Linked DNA regions of Homo sapiens: regions 1, 2, 3 and 4 are each reported to be linked to region 5. The links are microRNA targets in miRTarBase. Many come from high-throughput screens and were not tested one by one. Region 5 holds a microRNA gene; each other region holds the end of a gene's coding sequence.
The links. The annotated mature microRNA hsa-miR-3157-3p reads CUGCCCUAGUCUAGCUGAAGCU and lies in region 5 at 2,361-2,382, opposite strand. An mRNA with a match to its seed (bases 2 to 7 or 8) in the 3' UTR can be bound and repressed. Matches are read on the target gene's strand: a 7mer-m8 pairs with bases 2 to 8, a 7mer-A1 pairs with bases 2 to 7 and ends in A, and an 8mer does both.

Region 1 (4,147 bases), not on the chromosome of region 5:
GGGGCCTGTGCCAGCCTAGAGCAGTCCACACAGTCGTGTCTTGGTGAGGTCAAATATGACTGAGTAAAAAACAAGAGGCAGCCAAGGGTAAAAGGCATGAACCAATAGTGCACTAATGAGTGATTTTATAGTGGATGTCAGCTGAGGTTGTTCTGGTACAGGTCTTATCTACTAGTCTTCCTTACACTCCCGGAAAGGGAGTGTGTGTGGGTTTGAGACAGAAGAAGGTGTGAAATAGATCAGACGGTAATTTACTCACGGTCCTATTTCATGGATTTCCACTTTCTCTTCACTGTTGTGACAATCCAGAATCTATTATAGCTAACATTTTCTCCACTTCAGACTGGTATGTTTTATAGCTTGCCTCTAATGTCAACTCAAAGCAGGTAGAATAAACCGATGGTACCACATGATATTCTGCCACTCCAGTTTATTGAAATGAGTAAATTTATAGCTTTATTTGCATACAGAAAAGTGCATGAGAAAATAAGTATGTACAAAACAGTTGTGTGGCTGATCATGACTTTCAAAAATTCAACTACCTAGAAATAGTTACCTCCAGTTTAGCACATTTAGGTATTTGGACATTTAAAGTACTATTTCAAGTCTGTGTTTATAGTGACTGAGTAGGAAGCTGATAGAAAATTATGCCATATATGATCAACTATTACCATTAAACATAAAACCACAGGACTTTCTACTTGGGGCTAATCAATAGAGGGTCATGTGGCCCCTGTCTTGTTTAGCTTCTGAGCATCACCCTCTTCTTCCCCCTCAAGGTAACATTGGATGTGGCTGATTAACTCCCACAAGAACCTGAGCATTAAGGGTCAAGAGACAACATTAAAAACCCAACATAAACAAAACAAAACAAAACTTATTTTGACAATAATAAACCCTTCAGAACTGTGCTCACAACAGGACTGAAAATGAACTGGGAACGTTTCCAAGTTGTGAGGAGAAAAATATTGCAGACATTAGATTTTCAATGGTAACCCCAAACATTTGTTCTACAGCTTTTTCTCCCCTCTTATCTTCCTACTAACGACATTGAGATTGTGGCTGCAAGAAAAGTTTTCCAGTTACTTGATAAAGGCCTAGCATGACCCCAAATAAGCACCTAATGTGTTTGGCACAATCACATTTAGCTTTGTGATATGTTGCTCTTCAAAATAGAGTCCTTTGTTGCTGAGTTGAGTTCAATTTCTCTTGAACATTAACTGCTCTTCTGGAACTTCAGCTCAAGAGAGTGGCCTCCTCTTCCACAGGAAGGATATAGGTTGTGCCCATTTGCAATTCTAGTTCTTGGGACTAGCAATTACTGAGAATGAAGAGAGGCTCCAGATCTGTCTGTGAATCATTAGATTTTTTTTTTTTTTTGCCCTGTGAGAGTCTGTTGCTTGTGAAAGGGTGGTAATACTACTTGAACCCAGGAGCAAAACTGACTGAAAAAAGAATCAGAAAAAAAAGGGGAGGAGAGATGAATAATGTTCTTCCCTCATTTGCAATAGCTAGCAAGAAATGGGAGAAAAGGACAATCTTGGCCTTGGGAGAAATTGATCTTCAGAAAGAAGAGAAGCTATCTCTTTAAAAAGGTCCTTAAGTGGTTAGATTCCAAAGTGTCTAAGGAGAAGTTGTAGTTGCTTCAATTTTACTTTAGAAATTCTCTGTAACTGATGGTCTGAAGCAAGATTTCTTTTAAGAAGGTGCCTTGTTCTACTATAACCTTTAGGTTTTATGCTCTGAAACAGAACCCCCAAACAACTCTGAACAATAAGGATTTGAAAATTTATTCAAAACAGTATGATATGAAGGGATGTGGTGGCTGCATCTCCCAACCAGAGGGTAGAAGGCAGGTGTTCTAGAAGGTTCCAGGGACACAAGAGGCAGGGTTCAGTAGGGAAACTACTGTACTTCATTTACACTTAAGCTAGAGAGTTTAGGATCTTAATTTATTTAAAGCCATAGATTCAGTTTAGCTTTAACCTAGACAGAAAGTGAAAAGCATTTTACAAGTAGAAGAGGCAATGAGAAATAAGGCAACAGATAATACGTCAAAGCTGGAACAAGGGCAGAAATCAGAACGTGTCTGGCTATCAGCTTTGTTTTTGACTACTAAGGCCAACCTTTTTATTCCTCTGGATGGTCTGCAGACCAAGTTCCTAGAGAGGTATGGAGAAGAAAGAAACTTGTGGTTAGAATTTTTGAACTGAATATCAATGTATTAAATATCAAGTCATTATTAAAGATGTCAGTAATAGTATCTCCTAGGGCTGATGTGAGGATTGATGAAGATGATAAATGTAGAGCATCTAATAAAATGCTTAGCGCAAGTGCTCAACAATGTTAGTTATTTTATCCCATGAGAGTTCCCCTTACCCAATCTATTGATGTAGCAGGTTGACCTAAACTATCCTTCCTTCATGACCTAAAGAAGGAAGGACCTCCAAAGAGAAGTCTAGTTCATTCAATTTAGTCCATACAATCCATCTTGACTCTGAGTGTAGTTTACTCCTTCTATTGGTTTGGGTATATCTCCCCTTGAATGGAAGGTGAGAATGATCTCTGGTAAGACTTCTAGCTCTTAAATATCTACTTACTGCTTTATTACCTTTAGAATCACCTGCACTCTTGTTAAAAGGAAGCATTTCCTTGGCACCAAAGAGAAATTCCTTAGGGCTGCAGTAGGACCCAGGAATTTGCATTTTTAATGATTTACCCAGTTCTCTGAAGCAGTTTATGGAAAGGTACTACAGGAAACACAGTCATTGTAGAACTGGAGTTGAGGGAAAATGATCCAGATGCCTATAAGCTCAATCTTATTGTTTTCGCCACGTTTAAGATATCTATCTATTAAAAATAATTACATTCTAGATGAGCCAAATCACAGTTTAGTAGTCCTGTTTGGATGAGACAAGATTGGAAAAAAAATGGGCTTGGTTTTTGTTGTTGTTGTTGTTGTTTTTCATTATTTCTATTGTTCTACCCCTACCAGCTGGCCTACCTGCTCTAAAATGGGGAGAGCGTTCCTTTCCCTACTAAATTCAGTCTTTTGAGATCAGAATAAAGTTGCTGTCACCTTCTGTAGAGAAAGAGTTACACTGAGCCCTCCCAGGATTTCAGCTGAGGGTGATTCTACCTAATCACTTATCTAAGATAAAGTTCATGAGACAGAAGAATCAACCTTCAGACTCATTTTGAGCTCCTACTGCCTATGAAGGAGATCTTTAATAGTTGTTAAAACTTTCAGATTTAATACCATCAGACTCTTTCAGACTAACTTTGAGATTGCTCACAGTTAAATGGTAGAGAAGTAATGATCATAATCTGTTTTGCTGACTTGGTGGCTTCAGAAAGTCAATGGAATCTGAACCCTTTATAGGAAACCAAATTATTACTAGGTTGTTTTGCAACCACTTCAATATGAAAGTAAAAAGGTTAGAAACCTGTGATGTGTTGTTTTGAGTTTTACTTCCCACACAGAACTGAAAAACCAAGAACATGGAATAAGATAAAAATCCACATCCCCAAGGGTATATTACTATTTTTTGATGTGTTTAGGAATTCTATTCTTAAGTGCCCAGCCTAGTCATTATTGAATGATCTCAGTAGAGATTTTCCTGTCGATTACTCCTAAATTATAGATATTTACCCTCTTCCCAATTCTAAAATTAAAATTTCACTCTTTATTCCATGTCACCCTTTCTCACAAAAACCCCTGAGACAGGCTTATTAGGATCTTCTACTTACAGAATTTAGGCAAAAGGATTTCCAAATGGATCCCTATACATCTCAGAAGATACAGGTTGAGAAGAAGCCACCTAAGAAGATAAAATCATCTAGTCAATAAATACAGTTACAGTCATAAGAAAAAAATCGCAATGAAGACTTCCAAAATTCTTTTAAAAATCGCTTAGGTCATAGGCCAATCAGCCAATCAAACATTATATGGGGCTTACAGTGTTTTGTTTTCATCTGCTTGCAGATGGCAGTGTATATTATTTATGTGAAAATCAAGGTTCAGATGCATTTCATTTGCCTCCCCGAAATGGGAAGTATTATTTTCACAGGCTATAGAAATATTGTTGGAAAATTAAGAACTTAAATTTTTGAAAGGTTTTCAAGACAGTATTTTGGCTCAATTTTC
Region 2 (4,147 bases), not on the chromosome of region 5:
GGGCAACAAGAGCGAAACTCCATCTCAAAAAATAAAAAAAAAATAAAAAAAAAATAACACATGCTCAATATATGTTTATTGGATGTTATTGGATGGATGGATGGAACCTAATAGTGATTAGGCCAACTTCTAAGCAAGCATGGAAATGGCTAAATCTTAATCATTTTTTTGTTTTTATTAGATGACAATGAGAAAAACTTGTCCCTTGGTCTACAGACTCTCCGATCTCTGAAGGTAAGATTGACTCCACTTACCCCTTGATACTTCCTCTCTGAGGCAGGTATCCTCTTACACAGGAACTCATAGTGGTATCACTGACAAGTTACCTGTTTTCAGTGCATCATAAACTTGGATAAGCACCGGCTGATCATGGGGAAGACAGACAAGGAAGAAATCCCTTTTGTGGAGACAGTCTCTTTGAATGAAGACAAGTGAGTGCCCAAATGGGTCAGATCAAGTCACATCCATTTGTCATCAGCTGCGAGCAGGGTGGTGGTGGTTCTCAGACAGGACATGGGGTTGTATCCTGTCTTTGGCTTTCAATTATACTACAAATCCACCCTTCCCCACACCCAGAGTTCATCACCCCACAAAACTCTGTAGTGCACACATCAGAATGAGCAATGGTGATGCCACACAGAGTGGTAGGGAAATGACTAGCTTTGAAAGCAAAATTTTACTTGCCTTCAGCTTAACTTTTTTTGAATTTGGCATTATTTCTCCTGATATTTATTTCTCATTTCAGCACTTCAGAAGCATAACTACAGCCTGCAGCATGTCTGCACGTGTGCATGCATACACACCGGGTTGACAGATAGAGAAAACTGGGTTTGAACCAAATGCCGTAGTGACTTGCTGTGGACCAAGTCCTTCCATCTAATAGAAGCTCCAGGGGCTCCTTCCCATTCAGACCTCTCTAGACTATAGTCTATGCTTAGAGATCTTGTCTGGTTATGGCCATTGTTTTTTACTACTTTGATCACTTAACTTATAGACCTTTTTTGACACTGCCAGTCTCACTTGTGGCCTATTTCTCTGCTTCTTCCAGGAATTTGCTTTTATTAGTCAAGTATAGGGGCTGCCAGGTTCTGTGTCTCCATAGATATATGTGCTTCTTTTCCTATAGCTAAATGTATAATAAACAGGAACCTGACCTTTACCTCCTTTCAGCTGTTTCAAACAGGTGCCAGGATACCTATGTCTTAGAATTAGAGTTTCTTCAAATTGATTCATTGATTTCTCAAGTATGGATTATGTGAAAGAGCCCAGGGACATTATCCATTACAGTTTAACTCTTTCATTTAAAGGTCCAGAGAGGCAAGTGAATTGTCTAAGTTCATATATTAGGTCAGTGACTGAAGGGACCAAGAACGCAGACCTGATTTCCAAGCCAAGACTCCCATGCTGCCTCATTTGTATTCAAGCCTTTAACAGGAGGGCAAAGAGGTGAGAATGTGTTAAAAAAAAAAAAAAAAAGGCAGAGCATGGGAGGAATATTCTCTGGAGATGGATGCTAGGATGATTTGGGTAGCTCTCCCTCCTGTGTGCCAAGCCCAGTAAAAGTTCCTTGCCCCAAACTGTCACATTTAGGCCCTCATCTTGGTGCCTAAAAACGAGCGTACAAAGATGAATGAAATGGTTTCTCACTGTGAACCTCTTGGAGGAAAGGAGGAACCACAGACAGAGGAATATTAATCCCTCTCTGATATGGAATTGAAGGCTTAAGTAAATCAGAGTGTCACTGTCAGACGTTGATTACTCCCAAGATCCGATCAGCATTTCTGCCCATCCTATTATGTGTCTGTCAAGGACTGAAGTAGCTGGAAACCAGGAGTAGAGAAAGATGGGGGGAAAAAAAGAGCAAGGCCAGAATAGAAGGGAGTAGACTGAGTAGAATCAGTTGGTGGAGAGGCCTATCTAGATAAACCTTTCTGGGAGGCAGGGAATGACATTTTCAGGCAGGGAATTGAGATGTTCAGTTCTGTCCTGATACAAGGAAAGAGGCAGAGCAGGAGCCGGCAATGTTAAGGACAACTTTTTATAACTGCCCAGTATTTCCTGACCCCTGTCAAAGGTTGGGGAGAATACAAGGTTTCTTGAAGCTTTTTGACTGGGGTGTCACATTAGGCACACAGGTGTCTATAATGGAATCTCCCCTTCAGTTTGGTCATAGAAGTGCTTGGACAAGTCAGAAAAATAGCTAGCTGTGGGTATCCCTTTAAGATATTCCCAAGTCTACCCTGTGTCATAGCAGTAGTTCTCAGAGTGTTTGTTTAAAGGATCCCACTTTGAACTTTGCCAAGTACTACCAACTACCTTGTCTGGTGTTCAGCAACTGCCCCTACTGAACAGCCCTTTGGAACTCTGAATGATTTGGGCCTCACAGAAGCTCCCTAAAGCCTAGGAACTTGGTGACTATCATTTGAACAACTAGGCAGCCATACTGCAGTCAGTTGTCATGGGGTCATTCCCTAGGCCCCCTTCCTATCAGCCTCTACCTAAAGAAGCTAGATAGGAAGCTAAGCACAGCCATGGTTGGGAGGCTATATCTAAAGCTCATGAGGGGTGATCCCGGGGTTACCAGCCTTCAGCACTCCCTCTAGCAACACCCCATTCTCTTACCTAGCGGGGATTTGTACCTTTCCACTGAGGCCTCTCCATGCTCCTTCCCTACCTTTCATGGCAATACTTTGGCCTGCCTCTTATCCTGGTACTAAGTTGAAGTAAAGCTCACCCTTTACTTCCCTACTTGAAAGTTCTACTCTGAGCCTTGACTCTTAGCCACAGTGAGGCATGTTGAAGGTTCCTGCTGGTTTATTCTTTTTTTTTTTTTTTTTTTAGACAGAGTCTCACTCTGTTGCCCAGGCTGGAGTGCAGTGGCACGATCTCGGTTCACTGCAAGCTCCGCCTCCCGGGTTCATGCCATTCTCCTGCCTCAGCCTCCCAAGTAGCTGGGACTACAGGCACCTGCCACCACGCCTGGCTAATTTTTTGTATTTTTAGTAGAGACGGGTTTCACCGTGTTAGCTAGGATGGTCTCGATCTCCTGACCTTGTGGTCCGCCCACCTCAGCCTCCCAAAGTGCTGGGATTACAGGCGTGAGCCACCGCACCCGGCCTTCATTCACTTTCTTTAAATGCCTCCAAGTTGATTATTCTCCTAGCTCATATCTCCTTGATGTGCATGAGGGAGCACTGGGTCTAATTTTTGGGGGCTGAGAAGGTAAGAAGGTGAGGTCAGTTTTTCCCAGGAGTCCTAAAAAATTCTGGTACCTTACATTGAGGGTGTGGGAGAAAGGGTGTCATAGTTCTGAAAATAGGCAGTAGCATGAAGCACCAGACCTGTCTCATTCCTTATTAGATGTCTATCTCAAATAACAGAGTTTGAAAAATATTGGTTTTATCATTTGATATTTCCATGCCTGACTCGGGAAAATAACATTTTCTGACTTCTTTCTATTTTCTTGCCCTGCACAGACCCTACCTGGTACAATTTTCTATTTCTTAGCTCAAAGTGTCTATACAATGGGTTGCCTGGTATGTCAGCTGCCCTCACTCTTGTGTAATAGAAATATATTGCCAGGCTGGGGACGTGGAGGAGACGAACTGGATTCCTCCCTCCTCCTGTTGCCAGGCCTCTCTGCATTGGCACTTTATCCTTTCAGTGTTTCTGGCTGTGTTGGGTTCATTTGTGAGACTGATGTAACAATAAAGTGAAATCTTCCCCTCTGTGTGCTTGTCTGACAAAGTCTTTGTGTCAGGGCTCCAGTCTGGAAGGTGGGGGAGACTAGGTAAAGTCTAATTGCATCAGCATTTTTCTCTTAGGGTCTCCTGTTCCTCCATTGCTACTGGCCCTTCAGGTGTCTCTTACTGACTGTATGTCGAGCACATTAGCAAACCTCACTGAGCTTGGTTTTGTAATCTATAAAACAGAAGTAATAAAAGTGCTTACCTCACAGTGTCAAATAAGAAAATCCATATAGAGTGGTTGGCATATGGTAGTCACTCAGAACTTCATATACGGGAACAATCTTTTATGGTGGACCTGTCAGCAGTCCGAGAGAACACTTCTAGAAAAGGAAATATAGCTGGACGCGGTGGCTCACACCTGTAATCCCAGCACTCTGGAAGGCTGAGGCTGGAGGATT
Region 3 (4,000 bases), not on the chromosome of region 5:
CAGTGTTCAGTAACGCTCTGCATACAGTTGGTGTTCAATAAGTGCTTGTTGAGTGCAAATATATTGGGACTAGAATATGCCATGATACCTTCTCAGAAACTGCAGACAGTGCAGTGGGAAGGGGATTAGCAAGGGGCAATGCTAGGCACTTCACACTTACTAGCTCATTTAATTGCCCAAACCACTAGGAGGTAGCTACTATTAATACCCGCAAAGTACAGATGACAACATTGAGGATCAGAGACCTAAGTAACTCAGGCAAAGTCACACAGCTTGTAAACAGGAGCACTGGCACCCACACGCGTGCTTTCCAAGACAGCGGGCTGTGGGCAGGTGGCTTGGAGGCCACCAGAGCATGAGGCCAGGAAAGAAGCCCCAGCTCTTGCCCTTCCCTGTCCCACTGATTTCCTTCTCCAGAAGCCCCAGGACTCCTCAGAACTCTGCAGGGTAGGAAGGTTGTGCTGGAAGGAGGCAGGAGAGAGGCAGACATCCTACCCCACCTCCCTGCCCCTCTCCCCTCTGCCCCCCAGCCTCCCCTTCACCTGCAGTGCCCTCACCATCCAGGCTCTGACGTGCCTCGGCCTTCTTTCCCAGGGCTCCCCGTATTCCCCAGGGGCTAGGCCTGGATTTGGGTTGGTCCTTGAAGCCCTGTCCTCCTCCCCCAATATTTCAGTATTTCAACCTCTACCCCAACCACACCTGGCAAGGCCTCCGGTCTTCAAAGCTGGCTCAGGAGCACTTCCTTGTCCAGGAAGCCCCTCCCTTTCCAAGAGCTGCTCCTGGCCCCTCTGCAGGTCCAGGTCTGGGGTCTTCAACTCATCCATGGCAACCCAACTTCAAATAATATGTGAATGAGCAAACCATCCAGGGTCCCAACAGGCCCCATTTTTAGGAATCCTTGCGACAAGGACCAGCAGAGCCTCCTGCCCCTAACCCATCCAACACTGTTGTCACAGGCATATTTCATTCCGGCTGAGGCCCTGAGGCTCCTGTTTGGATGTCACCCCTACCCCTTACCAGAGGGAAATCACTTTAAGCCATCACTAACTCCTGACAGTTCAGACCCCCTGCCTCAGGCCATTTCTAAGAGGAGAAAAGGGTTGGAATCAGGAGGGGAGTCAAAGAGGGAGACCCCACCAAAGTAGGGCAGGGGAAATGGACCTCAGGCCTGCTTCACGAGCATGGTGTGACCTTGGGAAAGTTGCCTCCCTTCTCTGGGCCTAGCTCCCCCTTGCCAAGAGCAGACAGTGCAGGGGGCACAGGGGCCGATTCACAGCAGGTACTTGGTAGAAGGCTGTTCCCTCCTCTTCCTGGTTCCCAGAGCCCAGGACTCCAATGCACATTCCTGTATGGTGCTGCCTTCCAGAATGTCACCAGCCTGCAGGCCAAAGGCAGAACTGGGTCCCGCTTCACACCCCAGCAGAGAAAGGTCTGGGCCAGGACCACCACTCAGGCATCCTCCAGACCCTGCTTTGATTCCAGCAATGATGAGTGGTCCATGGCTGCCGCCTTGTGGCCTAGTGCAGGACTGCAGCCAGCACGCTGAGCTGGGGCAGTGGCCTTAGCAGAGCAGGGGGCGCCTCCAGTCTCACCCACTCAGGTGGGCCTCAGGGCTGGCTGGGCAGTGCAAGGTCAGATCCAGGAGCGGATTCCAGCCCCTCAGCACTTGGATAAGGGGGTCCAACCTGTCCTGGCTGGAGGCAGAAGGGTCAGACATTCGACCTGTGGATCTGGCCAGAGCGACCCACAGGAGGTGGGAGACTCAAGGGGCTTAGCCCCAGCCTGTGAAATAGGTCAGTAGGACTCAGGGAACCGGTTCCAGTCTCCTGCCATATACCTCCCCTTCCTGAGACAGCGAGAGGGAACCTGGAGTCCAGCTCCCCAAGTCTTCCGCTGGACCCAGGCTCCCCACTGAGCTGGATGCCTGAGTCGGAGGTCACATGGCCCATCCCCACCCACTCTGCCCAGCCCCACTGGCTGAGGCTAAGGATGGAGGTCAGCCTGTCCGCCCACTGAGCCCCCGAAGAGCGGGTGGTAATGAGGCTCTAGGCAGAGGCGGGAATGTGGTGTCTGGCACCTCCCCAGGGAGTCCCAAACCCATCTCTGAGCAACTCATTATTTCCTCTGCAGGCCAGGGCCTCATCTTCTTAGTGGAGATGGCCAGGCAGTGCCCAGTGAGGGCAGCCCCCTGGTGCATGGCAGGCCCCACCTCTGGAGGGGTAGGCACTGGGGCCACAGGTGACCCAAAGGTGCTTCTTCTCAATTTCCTCAGGCTCCTGTGGCTCTGACCTTGTGTCTCCAGCAGGGGGCTGCTGCAGGGCTGCCAGGCCTGAGTCACTGACACACCACACCCAGGCCCCAGCTGGGACTCAGACTCGGACTGCAGCAGGACAGGGGCTTGTGTCCAGCCAGGGTCAGTGCTGGCCAGGAAAGGACCGGCATTCCCAGCCTGGCTGCAGGATAGTACAATGGGGAAGGCATGGAGTCAAGCCAGGGCTCTGCTTGGGGAAGGGGGTCGTCTGAATAGCTCAGGGCCTGGAGAAAGCAAGGCCTAGGTTCTCAGCTTCAGGCACTAGGCACTCACCCCTGGGCTTCCCGACCTCCTGTCCCCTCCTACCCCAGGACGCCCAATCCCCTTAGCCAATCACAGGCCTCAGCACCATAGGGTAAAATATACAGATATATTTATATTATCAAAAAGTCCCCAAATTGGGGAAGGGGCATCAGGTAGTCTGGACCCCCCACTCAGCCCAGACTGGAAGGAAGGCTGAAGTCCCCAAAGCGCAGCTCTCAGCCCTGTAGAAGCTCAGCCAAGAGCTCCCTCCCCGTGAGCTGAGTGCTCCTCTACAGCACCCGCTTTCTGCTGTTCTGGAGTTTGTTGGGAGGAGCAGGGGGCTCCCTTCCGGCAGGGCCCCAGGGCCTCACGCCTCTGAAAGGGTGGTGGTCCTCCCAAGTTCCTGACTTATGCCCATCTCTCCAGCCCCACAAGGACAGTGAACCCGGTGGGGTGAGCAGGTTGGGCCAAGAGGTCTGAACACCTGGACAGAGTTGGGAGAGGTTCCTGCCCAGGCTGACCCCTGCTGCCTCCCACCCCTGCCGGGGAACCCCATGCTGCAGTCAGGATGGAGGATGTGGGTTGTGGGGTGCAGTTTCCCATGCACCCCCCGCTGGCTCACATCAGGCCTTGGAGCATAAGGGGTGTCTGAACAGAAGGCTTCCAGCGGCGGAATCCTAGAGCCAAGGATGGGCTCCTGTGCTCAGACGTTGCGCAGAAGCTGCAGGAAGGCAAGAGACCCACAGGTATTTTGTGAAGGCCCAGAGGGGCTGGCGCCCCGCTGAAGCTGCTGCAGCTGCTGCAGCCACTCTCCACTGCCAGCCGGGGAGCACTCCAATCAGCCAGGCTCCCAGCTCCCAGGGCCAGGCAGAGGGGACTCCCAGCTTCCAGGGCCAGGCAGAAGGGGCTCCTTTGAATGGTGTGAACCAAAGAGGCCTATGAGGGCCCCCACCAAGGCTGGAGGGAGGGGGCCGGAGGGCAATCGGGGAGGGCAATCAGGGCAATCATCTACTGTGGAGTAGAAGGCAGGCACCCAGCCAGGCCCCCAGCCCCCTGCCCAAAGGCATGGAGAGCCACTCACAGACAGAGGGTCCGCGGTGAAGGCAGCCACACTCCGGCGCATTTCATTTTCACTACCTCGAAGGGGGATCAGTGACACACTACCCAGCCGGACCTCAGGCACTGCCCGGGACACGCGTGAGGGCTCTGAGGGCCACACCAGGCCGTCATGCTGGGGAGCAGAGAGGAAGGGGCTGGGCTCAGCTTCAGTTCACCCAGACACTCAGCCTCAGATCTGCCCACCCTTCCCAGAAATGCCTCCAGCTGTGGTCTGAGATGACACCCTCAGCTTTGATCCCCGCCGATATGAGAAGCAGCTGTGGGGAGAACATGACTGCATCTCTGGCAAAACACGGCCAGTTCTGTTACTCAACAACTCCAATCTCC
Region 4 (4,147 bases), not on the chromosome of region 5:
TGCAATCGGTATCTCAGCCTGCCCTTTCTTCTCAAGAAATGGTGGTGGGTGAAGACTCAGCCTCGTCTCCAGGTGTCCTTAAGCCTGTCCATCTTCATGAGTCCTCTTCCCAACGGCTCCATCTCCACGCTCTGGCACCCAGTCCTGCACTTGCCCCGTCCACCTTGCCAGGTGCACATAAGTGTGGTGCTGCCTCCCTCTTACCTTGGAGGGGACTTCAGAGAATTTCAAGCAGGCCAGGTGAGGGCCCAGACCAGCTGCCTCCCTAGGCCTGTGGAAACAGTGCCTGTGGACCTCTTTGGTTAAACCTCCTATGAGGTGTTGCCAAGAAGGTCAACCAGGAGGTAGAATGTTCCTAACTGCCAACCAGTGAGGAAATTAGCCAAAACGGAGGCACAAAGTCATACCTCCAACGACACTCACGCTCACCCGGCATTTGTTGGTGCGTGACTGGGAGGACTTGGGATGGAAAGCTAGGCTATCCCCATTTCCATCCATCTTTCATTGGGAAGGGGTTTTGGGGGGCAGGCTCTGGAACGTGTCGTGGACGTCACTGGCCTGGGAGAGTTCACTGCCCTGGCTTCGTGAGTGGACTCAGGATTCCTTTCACGTCCACTTTCCACCTATGAAGTTGAGGAAATGGCAGTGGAGGGAGACGAACAAGATGATCCCCAAGGCCCTTCCAGGCTGGACGCTGTGGGGACTCTATCCAGGTCATAAAGGGCAGGTAGTTGCCCCAGCCAGGGTCAGCTCAGGTGAGGACAGGGGTTTGGCCGAGGTGACAGGATACCCAAGAAAGTAGAATCAGGCCAGAATCAGACTCGGGGCTTTGTGCAGTCACAGATAATCAATGAGGCGGGAAGAACCAGGCTTGGTGGGGGAAGGACGCCAGGAGAGAGGGAAGGGCCGGGAATCTCCGCCGCCTCTGACTCAGACTCGCCAGCAGGTGGCACTGTAGGACAAGGAGCTGAGGGTCTCTCCAGTGAGCACTGCTTCCGGCCTGGGCTGGGAGCACCCGGAGGACTCCAGAGAGCACCCAGAGTGATGCTTCCAGGGCATCTGCCACAGCCCTAGCGGGTCCCACAGCAAATGGGGCAAGGAGTGATTGGAGAAACAAAAGAGATTTCCTAGCTGAGCCTGTCCTGCCTGCCTCGGCCCAGGTCCTGGGGAAAAGCAGGCCTGGGAGGGCATCTCTGTTGCCACAGTGGGGCCAATTTTGGGTTCTTCAGGAAACTCTTCTGCCTCCTGATGTGCCCCCTCCCCTTTCCGTAGGGGATTTCAGAGCGAAAGAGTGGGCTCGATTCAAAATATCCTTCAGCTTCTGGATGTATCTGGATGAAAGCCCTCCGTCCTCGTGAGCGTCCTGGCCTGCCCAGTCCCTCAGTCACTCACAGGGCTCTGGTTGATGCCTCTGCAGTGTGAGTCAGTGATAAGAAAAAAATAATAATTCATATTAATCTATTGCTTAAAAGTGCCAGTTGCTGTACTAATCATGTCATGCACATTCTTTAATGTAATGGTCACCTGATTTAGCTTGAAGACACAGTCTGTGATGCGTGGGGTCCTGTCTCTGAGATGAGGCATAGAGAGGATAGGACTGTTGCTCAAGATCACACAGAAATTGCTGGGCAGAGCTGTGCTTCGCACTCTTTTGCGGTATGGCGTGCTACCGCCTGCTCAGGGCCAGCCCACTCAGACTCTGCCTGCTTGGGAGATTGGAGGGATGAAGGAAAATGAGTATTGAAGACTTTTGGCTTCCACAGCTGGGTAGATGGTGGTCTTACTTATGAGATGGGAAAGACGGAGGGAGAAGTAAGTTTGGCAGAAAAAAAGTCAAGTGTCTGCCTTGGCTATGGTGGTTAACAATGAATGCCAGACACCCAAGGGGAGATGCTGAGTGGGCAGTTGGATAAATGAGTCTGGGGGCTGGGCGTGGTGGCTCATGCCTGTTATTCAAGCACTTTGGGAGGCTGAGGCGGGTGGATCACCTGAAGTCAGGAGTTTGAGACCAGCCTGCCCAACACGGTGAAACCCCATCTCTACTAAAAATACAAAAATTAGCTGGGCATGGTGGCATGCGCCTGTAATCCCAGCACTTCGGGAGGCTGAGGTGGGTGGATCACAAGGTCAGGAGATCGAGACCATCCTGGCTAACATGGTGAAACCCCGTCTCTGCTAAAAATATTTTTTAAAAATTAGCCGGGCGTTGTGGCGGGCACCTGTAGTCCCAGCTACTCAGGAGGCTGAGGCAGGAGAATGGTGTGAACCCAGGAGGTGGAGCTTGCAGTGAGCCGAGATTGCACCACTGCACTCCAGCCTGGGCGGCAGAGCAAGACTCTGTTTAAAAAAAAAAAAAAAAAGAAAGAAATCCTTGGCTGGGCGCGGTGGCTCATGCCTGTAATCCCAGCACTTTGGGAAGCCGAGGGGGGCAGATCATGAGGTCAAGAGATCAAGACCATCCTGGCCAACATGGTGAAACCCCATCTCTACTAAAAATACAAAAATTAGCTGGGTGTGGTGGTGCGCACCTGTAGTCCCAGCAACTCGGGAGGCTGAGGCAGGAGAATCGCTTGAACCCAGGAGGCAGAGGTTGCAGTGAGTTGAGATTGCGCCCCTGCACTCCAGCCTGGCAACAGAGTGAGACTCTGTCTCAAAAACAAACAAGCAAACAAACAAAAAAAACCCTTAGATTAGAAATGATATTTAAAACTTGAAAATTTGCCTCCCTCAAAAAAGGTGTGGCTGGAATGTTTTGGAGGTTAGCTTACCTTGAGAGGTCTCTATGTGGCAGCACCCTCATTTGATGTCTCTAAGGCTGATTTGCTCACTGGTTTTCAAATGGAGACACAAAAGGAGGATGACAAATAGCATTTTTAATTTAAAATAGATCAGCATAAAATTTTCAGAGAGAATCCAAAGAACACACGGAAAGACCGAGTGAGGAAGTGTCCAGGAATTCGGCTGAGAAGCTCAGCAGCCTGTGTTCAGCAGTCTACCCGCTGGCCTGGAAGGCTTTTTCCAGAGTGGGTTGACCTTCCAAAGTCAGTCCTGGGGGAGGAGTCCAACTTGGCCTGCTTGATTGACGGGGCCCCAGCACTGAGGAGGCGGGGGCAGGCTCGAGTAATGAACCATTGGCTCTTCCTGCTGTCAGAGGTCCCAGAGAGATAATACTGCCGTGATGAGACATCAGGCATCCCAAAAAGAGCAATTAAAACTCATGTTTGGAATAGAAAATGAGGGCTTTCAAAGCACGTCACTGTCATGCTTTCTGCAGCAAATACACAGGTCGTTCTTAACACTTAATGGGCAGAGCCATGGAATCGACCCTTAGCCTGGAGTCTAAAAAATTGTCTTGTAATTTGGGCTTGTCTTGGCAGGTGAGGGCTTGAGAAGAGGCAGGGTGAGCCTGCCCTAGGAGGAGAAGGAGGAGGAGAGGAGGAGGCTCCAGGTAGAGGGTCACTGGGGCTAAGTGGAGACTAATGTTGGCTAACCTAAAAGGGGGGACTTTTACCAAAAACAATTAGCCTAAGACTTGAATCTGAGCTCCTTGAAGCAGAACCTGCATAAAAATGGGGGAATGTCAGGGTTGGGGCAAGATAGGGAGTCCTTCTGGGAATTTTCCACTATGTCAAGATGGCTTCTTGTGGCAGGGGAGGGAGGGGCTAGGGGTGGGTGTAGTTGCCCATCCGCAGGGTCCCCTGGCGCACGGCACACTCTTCCCGGTGGGCTTTTAATGCTCTCTGGCGATCGGCCTCCGTGGGGAACGTATCAAGGTGGCGGCCCACCTGTGGATAGAAGGGAAGAGTGGGTGGGTGAGGGGAGACTTCAGTGTAGCTCATTCCAGTTGCTCCCCTCGCCTGCCCCCTGCTTCAATCTTAGAATAATGATAAAAATAGCTGTAAGAGGGAGGAAGTCACAGCAAGTGCTGTGAGCCTCCTGGTGCTGAGCCACGAGGCAGAGAGCAGGGGCTACCTGGGGGAACTGTTCGTCCTTCTGTCCAGCTCCTTGCTGGGGAAGATACAGGCAGAACAAAAATCACCAGGCCATGACCAGACGACCACGCAATGGGACCTAGTAGCCAGTGTCCTTCATGCACTACTTTTCCACCATTAAAAACCCCAAACAAGCCACCCTCTCCAAGGGGGAC
Region 5 (4,147 bases):
TAAATAAAATTAGGCTGGTGTAGTCTGGAACTCGGTTTAATATCGTGTTAGTTTAGGAATCACTCAACATTCATTTTTCAATCCCTTAGATTTTAAAGTAGCAAGTACAGTCAGTTGACAGCATAAGGACCAGGCTCAGGGATCATATGGGAAGGACACCTGCTATCCTATCCTTGCCTGACTACCACTCTGTTTCCTCCCATAACACCCTCTGCCTCCCAGGTAAGCATCACCACCCTGAATTTATTAGTTCTTAAGTCCATGAAGCCTTGACATGGTATGCAATTTATATGTAAATGATTTCCCCTATTCTTAAAGTTTTGTCTACTCAAAGGGACCTGTAATTAAAAATGTAAGAGTGACTGTCTTGTATCCATTTACTTGCTAGTTTCTCCCTACTAGAACCTTGTGTTAGGCCGTTCTCGCATTGCTATAAAGAAATACTCAGGACTGGGTAATTTATAAAGAAGAGAGGTTTAACTGGCTCATGCTTCTGTAGGCTGTACAGGGAGCATGGAGCTGGCATCTGCTTGGCTTCTGGGAGGCCTCAAGAAACATGGCAGAAGGGTAAGCAGGAGCAGGAATCTCACTTGGTGGGAACAAGTGGGGGTAGGCGAAGGTGCCACACACTTTAACCAGATCTCACATGAAGTGAACTCACTATCACAAGGACAGCACCAAGCCATGAGGGATCCGCCCCCATGACAAACACCTCCCACTAGGCCCCACCTCCAACATTGGGGATTACATTTCAACATGGATTTGGGTGGGGACAAATATCTAAACTATGTCAAACATATCTTCCCTCTGTCTGCCAGGCTGGAGCGCAGTGTTGCCATTATGGCCCACTGCAGCCTCGACCTCCTGGGCTCAAAAAATTCTCCCACTTCAGCCTCCTGAGTAGCTAGGATCGTAGGCATACACCACCACATGCCTGGCTCATTTTTACAATTTTTTGTAGAGGTGGGGGTTTGCCATGTTACCCAGGCTGTCCTTTTTTTTTCTTAAGATTTTTAATTTTAGAACAGCTTAGATGTACAGAATTATTACTAAGATAGTACACAGAGTCCCCATATAGCCCACAGCCAGTCTCTCTTCTTATTAATATATTGAGATGGTACATTTGTCACAATGCACCAGTACTGATGTACTATTACTAACAGAAATCCATGCTTTATTCAAATTTCCTTAGTTTTTCCCTAATATCCTTTTTCTCTCCCAGATTCCTATGCAGGATATCACATTACCTTTAGCACTCAGGTCTTAGGCAACTCTGGGTTGTGACAGTTACTCAGACTTTGTCTGTGATGACCTCGACAGTTCTGAAAATCCGTGGTTAGGTATTTCATAGAATGAACATATGTTTCTTGAGAGCAGGGATTTTGTCTTACTCATCTTACGCCCCTGTGTGTGATAGGGATCTGATGTATGATAGCACATCATAGGCTCTTGGGATGTAGGTAACAAAAAATTGGCCAGCACGGTGGCTCACACCAGTAATGCCAGCACTTCTGGAGGCCAAGGTGGGTGGATCACTTGAGCTCAGGAGTTCAAGACCAGCCTGGCCAACATGGCAAAACCCCATCTCTACAAAAAATAAAAAAACTAGCTGGGCGTGGTGGTGTGTGCCTGTAGTCTCAGCTACTTGTGGGGCTGAAGCAGGAGGACTGCTTGAGCCCAGGAGGTCGAGGCTGCAGTGAGCCATGTTTGTGCCACTATACTCCAGCCTGGGTGACAAAGTGAGACCCTGTCTCAAAACAACAACAACAAAAATGCAGTGTAAAAGTAGGCAGTGACTAATAAACAAATGCTGCCTTGGGTTGATTTAAAAAGTAGAGTACTCTGATCATAGGAAGGCACAGTCCCATCAGATTCAGCACTGGTTAGATCGTATCTACAAAAATCTTGTGAACTGAATTTTAAGTGGAATGGTGATAAACCCAAGTTTTGCCACAAGCTGGTGATGGGTCCAGGAATCATGTTATATGAGTAACAACTGAAGGAACTGGTGGTGTTTTCACCTGGGGAAGCCTAAGGAAAGGTAAAATGCTTGTCTTCCCAGATGTGAGAAGTCCTATTACTGCAAAGGGCAGAATTAAGTCAGTGGTCCAAAGTTTCTCACATTTCAATGAATAATAAGCCAGAATGTTACAAACAGAGTAGTGCTGCTTTGAGAGTTCCTGAGTTCCTAGTTAACAGAGGCCCCTGACATAGACCAGAAATGGGATGGAAGTAATCCTTGAACTTGGGTGTAAACATCTTCCAATTCTCAAGAGCTTCTGAAGCTCTAAAGAGTTTCTGAAGAGTTTCTAAAGGTTTTATGGACCTGGGACTTGAGCTGGGTGTAGAAAGAAGGGAAAAGCTTCAGCTAGACTAGGGCAGTCATCACCCCAGTGTTGGCACAAAGCAGACTGCACTAGCCTGGCTGAAGCCCTTCCCTTCTTATATTCTCAGCTCAATTGTTGGACAGTGAGGGCAGACTCATTGAGAAGTTGTAGAGGAAATAAAGTTGAGTGAGTAGAATGAGGTTGAGTTACGGAGTTTTGAAAGCCAGAAGAGAATACAGACTTTGTGGGGTCAGAGATATCGCTGAGGATTTGTGATATGATACTGGTGATTTTAGGAAGAATGATGATTTTAGGAAGATTGGTTTTAGAAAGAATAATGATTTTAGAAAATGGTGGTTTTAGGAAGAATGATCTGACAGTATCAGGGTAGGTTAGTAAGAGAAGATGGGAGTCAGAAAGCTTTCTGCAATAATGACAAATTGAGTAAGAATGGTACATGGATATTTAATGGTACAAAGGTAAACCCTAAGAAAGAAAACAAAATTGATAGAATTGAGGGATAGAATAAAGGAAAGGAAATATACTAATTCTGTTATTACTTATAAAAGTGAATTACAGATACTGAGATACTGGCTAAATAGAAAACAGAAATACTGATTATACAATCTGTATTACAAAGTTAACTACAGGAACAAAAACACAAAGCTTTCTAATTATGAAAAGAAGGAATAAAACAAAGCAAACTTTCCATATAGTAAACTATACTTTAAAGGTATAAATAGCAAAAGTATAACAAAATAATCTGACAGAACTAAGTCCAAACATATCAAATCAATAAATGAAAACAAACTCAACTATTAAGGGAAAAAGAACTTCAGACTGAATCACAAAGTGAAACTCAAATCTATGTTGTATGAGAGACAGGTCTAAAATAAAATGATTAAGAAAGGTTGAAGATCAACGAAAAAGTAGAGATACCAGAAAAACTCAAACAAAAAGCAAGGATCAAGATCTTAATAACAGACAAGGCTGAATTTTGGCCAAAATGTATTAAACCAAATTTTAAAAAGGGCACTTTATAATGCTAAAGGTTACAGTTCATGATAAGGATGAAGTTATTAATACTTCTGGATCAAATAACTGTAGCAATATTATGCACAAACTATAAAGGTTTTACAGAGAAATAAAAGAAAAACATGGGGCAGGGTGCAGTGGCTCACGCCTGTAATCCCAGCACTTTGGGAGGCCGAGGCGGGCGAATCACGAGGTCAGGAGATCGAGACCATCCTGGCTAACACGGTGAAACTCCGTCTCTACCAAAAATACAAAAAGTTAGCCGGGTGTGGTGGCGGGCGCCTGTAGTCCCAGCTACTCCAGAGGCTGAAGCAGGAGAAAGCTCCAGGAGGCGGAGCTTGCAGTGAGCCGAGATGGCGCCACTGCACTCCAGCCTGGGTGACAGAGCAAGACTCCGTCTCAAAAAAAAAAAAAAAGATGGTAGGTAAGAAACTAATTTATTTCTCTAAGTCCATGACAGATCAGTAACATTAAAAAAAAAAAAAGCAAGGATATACAAAACCCTAACACACCATTATGGTTCATCTAATGGACACATATTAGATATTCTGAGAAGGAAATGGTGCAGACCTGGAATAACAAAGACGGCAGAGAAAACAAAGTACACCGCCAGATGTACAGAGATAGCCTGTCACGCATGCCAACAGCAAAATTCTGTCTTCTAAAGAGTCCTTAGATAACTGAAATTGCTTTCTTTGTTGACCCATCTAGGTGCCTGAGATCAGAATATCCTTACTGGCCTCTTTGCTAGCTACCAGCTAATCTGCAGCTTATCTAGAGAAAAT

Region 1: miRTarBase lists DAB2 as a target of hsa-miR-3157-3p. Seed matches in the 3' UTR shown: 7mer-A1 at 1,379-1,385.
Region 2: miRTarBase lists NRIP3 as a target of hsa-miR-3157-3p. Seed matches in the 3' UTR shown: 7mer-A1 at 1,436-1,442.
Region 3: miRTarBase lists ARAP1 as a target of hsa-miR-3157-3p. The part of its 3' UTR that is shown has no 7-base or 8-base seed match.
Region 4: miRTarBase lists CFAP77 as a target of hsa-miR-3157-3p. Seed matches in the 3' UTR shown: 7mer-m8 at 3,408-3,414.

The regions. Positions count from the first base shown.
Region 1 is chr5:39,371,264-39,375,410 of GRCh38, forward strand. It overlaps DAB2 (DAB adaptor protein 2), which reads right to left. Exons shown (of 15, transcript NM_001343.4): 14 at 3,751-3,821; 15 at 414-2,162. The coding sequence ends at 3,756. Among named protein-coding and RNA genes, the nearest start is that of C9, 8.8 kb to the left of the region's middle.
Region 2 is chr11:8,980,159-8,984,305 of GRCh38, reverse strand. NRIP3 (nuclear receptor interacting protein 3) reads left to right here. Exons shown (of 7, transcript NM_020645.3): 5 at 182-234; 6 at 337-431; 7 at 746-3,730. The coding sequence ends at 761. Among named protein-coding and RNA genes, the nearest start is that of TMEM9B-AS1, 18 kb to the right of the region's middle.
Region 3 is chr11:72,682,407-72,686,406 of GRCh38, forward strand. ARAP1 (ArfGAP with RhoGAP domain, ankyrin repeat and PH domain 1) reads right to left here. Exons shown (of 35, transcript NM_001040118.3): 34 at 3,636-3,785; 35 at 2,663-3,275. The coding sequence ends at 3,258. Among named protein-coding and RNA genes, the nearest start is that of PDE2A, 10 kb to the left of the region's middle. RefSeq lists an enhancer at 2,328-2,887.
Region 4 is chr9:132,572,026-132,576,172 of GRCh38, reverse strand. CFAP77 (cilia and flagella associated protein 77) reads right to left here. Exons shown (of 6, transcript NM_001282957.2): 6 at 2,854-3,785. The coding sequence ends at 3,663. Among named protein-coding and RNA genes, the nearest start is that of BARHL1, 8.5 kb to the left of the region's middle. RefSeq lists a silencer at 864-933.
Region 5 is chr10:96,061,961-96,066,107 of GRCh38, forward strand. It overlaps MIR3157 (microRNA 3157), which reads right to left and starts at 2,439; the gene lies at 2,355-2,439. All of the region lies in intron 2 of ENTPD1-AS1 (ENTPD1 antisense RNA 1), which reads right to left.